Regions from separate parts of the Homo sapiens genome. Here region 1 is linked to region 2. Evidence: fine-mapped expression QTL. Tissue or cell type: whole blood. Region 2 holds a variant in brackets; the other region holds the start of a gene. All regions are shown on one strand. Distances are from middle to middle.

Region 1 (2,659 bases), 140 kb before region 2:
AAGTGCTTCAGGGACCAAGATTTTATTATTCTTTGGTGATGAGAGTTGTGATCCTGCATCCCTGATTTAGAGCCACTTAGGGCTCCGACAGCTCCACCCCGGTGTTCTAGAGGAAAATCTTCCTTCATGCTCTCTGCCTGATTTGAAAGCAACACAGCTTCCCGATGTTCCTCCTGGGAGGTGGTTCAATCTTTAGAAATTGCCTAAGAAGCCTGTCCATCTGCTGGAGTGCCTGGCTTTCGGGAACGGACCAAGACGGACTTGGCTTTTAATCTGAAATAATTTGAGGATTTTCTGTCTATAACTTAAAATCACCGCTTAACTCAAAGTAAAAAAGTGACACGCTCTCTAGAGGGCTTTTGTAGACATTGGGAAAATCCGTATGACGAAGTACGGTTTAGAAATTCCGGATTTAATTTCCCCCGGGAAAAGCAAATATCTTCTGTTGGTACCGGGCAGTCGACTCACGTAGTCTTCCTTTAAAACCAAGTCTATGCCAGCCGGGTGTGAGGGGAGTGGTGGGGGTGAGCAGGGGGAGGAGAGAGATTCGAAAAGTACAGGAGGAATCAGTCCAGTACAGGGGTTGCCCCTGCCAACAAGTAGCTATTCCTGTTAACTCCCAAGAAGCAAGTTTCCACCTTTGCCACTTCCTCCTGCCCTTTCCTTTCCTTTTCCCTTCACTCCCGCTCTTGGACCCAAGGTTCGCTCCCCACCGCCACCGCCCTGCCCCACTATTCTCTTTACAGGACAGAAGGCTGCAGCAGCACGGCGGAGAAAAATCTCTGAGGAATGAGTCAGTGGGATGGGCGTATGGGTGGAGGGAGAGGGCAGTCGATTTTTAAACCTCAGCGAGGGTGGGTGGGCAGTTGGAAGCCAGAGGCCTTATCACTGGGGCGCTGCAACATCACAGAAAGTGTTAGTCCCAGGGCTCTCCCTGGCGCGCGCGGCTCCTGTGCTTGCTTCTTATTGGCGGACCTGGCCCTGGGGGCGGAGCCGCGGTGAAGCACCGCTCATCCGGGCTCCAGGACCGGGGCACGCGGTTCTCCCTGATCCCGGAGCTGGGCTCAGGGCTCGGACTCAGTCCTGCAGCGCCTCTAGGCTGCGGATCCGCGCTTCAACCACCTGCTTTGCGCTGCGTCCGGGGAAGTGGGGAGGAGACGGGAGGGAGGGAGGAGGCGGGGAGAGGAGGAAAGAGGCAGCTTACACACGCCTTCCAGTCCCTCTACTCAGAGCAGCCCGGAGACCGCTGCCGCCGCTGCCGCTGCTACCACCGCTGCCACCTGAGGAGACCCGCCGCCCCCCCGTCGCCGCCTCCTGCGAGTCCTTCTTAGCACCTGGCGTTTCATGCACATTGCCACTGCCATTATTATTATCATTCCAATACAAGGAAAATAAAAGAAGATACCAGCGAAAAGAACCGCTTACACCTTTCCGAATTACTCAAGTGTCTCCTGGAAACAGAGGGTCGTTGTCCCCGGAGGAGCAGCCGAAGGGCCCGTGGGCTGGTGTTGACCGGGAGGGAGGAGGAGTTGGGGGCATTGCGTGGTGGAAAGTTGCGTGCGGCAGAGAACCGAAGGTGCAGCGCCACAGCCCAGGGGACGGTGTGTCTGGGAGAAGACGCTGCCCCTGCGTCGGGACCCGCCAGCGCGCGGGCACCGCGGGGCCCGGGACGACGCCCCCTCCTGCGGCGTGGACTCCGTCAGTGGCCCACCAAGAAGGAGGAGGAATATGGAATCCAAGGGGGCCAGTTCCTGCCGTCTGCTCTTCTGCCTCTTGATCTCCGCCACCGTCTTCAGGCCAGGTGAGCAAGGGCCTGGGAGCAGCCCCAGACAGACGTGGGCCTGGAGCAGTTTCCTAGGTCCCCGTCCCAGCCTCGCACCCCCGAGGCAGTGCGCCCAGGCGCGTGGTGGAGGTAAGGGGACCGCTGTCCTGGCACAGAGCTGTCCCCGGGCTCGGTCACCTGTGCCGCACGTTTGGGCTTGGCTGGTTAGCTCAAGTTTGGGCATCAAGCTGGGGAAACTGGGTGAATCTCCAGGAACTTGGTGCTCCGGGGTGGGCAGGATTCGCCTGACGCTCTCCCCTTGTCCCTGCGGCTCCCAGCTAGGCGGCGGACTCTTGCCCTCTGACAGTTCCTCCTGTCTCTGGGTATCCAAGTCCACGTCACTGCGCCCCGAGCAGTTTTTCTTTCGCTTAGTTCTCGGATGAAATAACTGCCGGCACTTTTTCGTGATAAATCCCCTAGTAACTTCCCCTTGGTGAGCCGAGGAAGGGATGGGAGGGGTAGAGAAGGAGAGGACTTTAATCACCTCCCCCCGCCCCCCTTGCGAAACCTGCTAAAGCTTAAAATCGTGGTTTCAACGTTACCCCCTGCGGTCCCCGTCCATTGTCTGGGCGGGTGGTGAGTGAAAGGGTGACCGCAGGCAGATAACACAGCCAGAACAGGAATTAGTAGGTAGGCCTGGGAGACACCTCAGTGAGAGGTTTGTGAATTTCCAGGACCTGCTCATAGAGCCTCAGTTCTCAGTTCTGTACTGAGTCTTGGAAGAGAGAGAGAGAGAGAGAGAGAGAGAGAGAGAGAGAGAGAAAAGGCAAAATTCCCAACAACTAAAATATCTCTCGGGAAATCCCTTTCCACACCCTCGGGGACGTCCCCTGGCCC
Region 2 (2,846 bases):
ATTGTAGCTGAAGAACACACACTTATAGCATATTTTTGTAGGACTCAGGTGGGAATGAACTTGAAAATTACCATTGGATTTTCAGACAGTAATACAAAGTATTTCAGTCTTTTCCATGTGGTTTGTTTGTTTGGTTTCCAATTAATTACTTCCTGGGGGAAGCATTGGGAGTTGTTTCAGTTATAGATTCATAACAAAATGAGATTCATAAACTAAATACATGATATAATCTGAAGCCCTGCTAGGACTCTTACAGCTCGTCTTTATAACCTAGTATTCCTTTAATGAGTAGGAACAGTGAACTTTTTTTTAAACCCAAATGACACTATTGTCTTTAAAAGCTGTTAAAAATAGCAGAGCCAAAGACGTAATATTATAATATTCAGTTAGGGGAATTTTGAGTGTCATTATCTCCCTAAGCAGTAACCATGAACAAATTATCAAAGCCATTGTCTCTTTTAAAATGGAAAGATGAACCAAATGTATTAGCACCTCAGTGGGATTGGGAATATGTGAAAAACATAATCATAAAACAGCAATTGCTAAGCCTCTACTCAAGACACTCTTGTTCATCAGAGGTTTTGGTGCTGTTGGAAAGTCAGCACCTGCTGAAATCTGCCTGGGGATTCAGCTGCCTAGACTGGAATCACCTCTGCTAATGGATGCCAAAGCTTTGCCCTTGAAGATGTTTGTGTCCTTCCCTCTCCCTATACCAGTGGAATTTAGATGAGACTGTCTAAATGTAGAATATATTGCATAGGCTGAAGAAATTGTGTGTATCACTTGTTTTTAATTAATAGACTATTTTTATCTGTTCTTAGTTTATGGAAAAATTTGAGTGGAAAGTAAAGAGCTCCTATATAGGCCCGCAATTCCCTGCCTCCCCACCCCCTTGCCCCTAGTTTCCCCTATTATTAACATCTTTGCATTAGTGTGGTACATTTGTTGCAATTGGTGAGCCGATGTTGATACATTATTATTGACTATAGTCCCTAGCTTACATTAGATTTTCCTGTTGTGTTGTACATTTTATGGGTTTCGACAAACACTTAATAATGTTTATTCATTATCATATCAGAATAATTTCACTGCCCTAAAAATGTCCTGTTCTCCGTCTATTCATTCTTTCCTCCCTCCCTTGAGACCCTGGCAACCACTGGTCTCTTTACTATCTCCATAGTTTTGCCTTTTCCAGAATGGCATATAGTTGGAATCATACAGTATTTAGCCTTTTCAGACTGGCTTCTTTTACTTCGCAGTATGCATTTCAGGTCCCTTCGTGTTTTTTTCATGGCTTGCTGGCTCATTTCTTTTTATTGCTAAATAATATTTCATTGTCTGGATTACCACAATTTTTTCATTCATCTGT[T/C]GAAGGACATCTTGTCCAAGTTTTAGAAGTTATAAGTAAAGCTTGTATAAACATTCTTGTTCAGGTTTTTGTGTGGACATAAACTTGCAACTCATTTGAAAAGTCGTTAATTGTGAAAAGTGTTTTTGACAGAGAGGAAAGACACAGGTCTTTAAGTTAGAAAGACTTTAATCTCAACCTTGCCATTTTAGTCATTCAGTACGTTTTTATTGGAGGTCTACTGTGCTACCCCTGCCGTTTTTGGTGTTAGAAATGCATATAGGGCTCCTCTGCCTGTAACCTGAGTGCCCCACCTACATTAAAAAGCCTCATTAGACTTCTGGTTCCTGATCTGAAAGATGCCTATCTTCTTGAATATTCATGATTTTCTATTTTATTTTGAAAATTAGAACAGCTGCCACGGACAGGACTTGTATTTCCTGGGAGCAAGTGCCAAATTGCTACATAGCATCCCATTGAGAAAGAAGTGATAAAATGTGTTAGTTCATTTTCTTTCTAGTCCTTCTAACCTATATGTTTTTTAAAATATTTGTCTAAATATGAAAAGCATTTTAATACTTTCCAAAACAATATTCTTGAATTATCCACAATATAAAATGAAATAAGGACATGGAATCATTTTTTGTATATCTAATAGTGATGAGAATTGGACTTGAGCTGAGAATTCATTTTGAGCTCTATCTCCATCACATACTGGCTTCGTGATATTGGCTTATTCTCTTGACTTTGCAGGGAGAACAGTTTCCTATTGGTAAAATGAAGGATAATAATATTTGTTCATCATACAGGTTTCTTTGCTTATCATACAGGACTTTTGTGAAGCCCAAATGCAAAAATGTACAATGTATATAAAAGAATGTTGCAAACTATAAAACACCATAAAAACATTCAGTATTATTACCAATTGCTTTAATGTATTTCTAGGTCTATTTAATCTTTTATTGTATATATTTAATCTATACAACATGAGGTTTTGATATACATATGCCTTGTGAAATGATGACTACAGTTAAGCAAATCAACATATCACTCTCCTCACATAGTTATCATTTTTTGTGTGTGATGAGAGTACCTGAAATCCACTCTCTTAGAAAATTTCTACTATACAGTACACTATTATTAACCACAGTCATCATGCTGTACTTTACATTTCTAGTTGTGTCCTATACAGTTGTAACTTTGTAGCCTTTGACCAACATCTCCCCACTTCTGACATCTTCCCACCCCTGGTAATCACCATCCACTCTCTGTTTCTGTGTATTTGCCTTTTCTAGATTCCACATATAAGTATGATTATGTAGCATTTGTCTTTCTTTGGCTTATTTCAATTAGCATAATGTTCTCCAGGTTCCTCTGTGTTGTCACAAATGGCAGGGTCTCCTTTGTTGAGGCTGAGTAATATTTTATTGTGTTTGTATCTATATAGACAATTTATTTATCCTTTCATCCATAAATAGACACTTTGGTTGTGTCCATA

The links. PIP is the estimated chance that this variant, and not a neighbour inherited with it, causes the effect.
Region 1: it holds the start of ALCAM, and the variant in region 2 is fine-mapped to the expression of ALCAM in whole blood (INTERVAL, PIP 0.99).

What each region holds. Positions count from the first base shown.
Region 1 is chr3:105,365,681-105,368,339 of GRCh38, forward strand. ALCAM (activated leukocyte cell adhesion molecule) reads left to right here and starts at 1,229. Exons shown (of 16, transcript NM_001627.4): 1 at 1,229-1,801. The coding sequence starts at 1,729. RefSeq lists silencers at 1,174-1,273, 1,604-1,723.
Region 2 is chr3:105,506,300-105,509,145 of GRCh38, forward strand. The region is part of intron 1 of ALCAM (activated leukocyte cell adhesion molecule); the gene reads left to right. Among named protein-coding and RNA genes, the nearest start is that of ALCAM, 140 kb to the left of the region's middle. The variant T/C (reference allele first, on the strand shown) is at 1,370.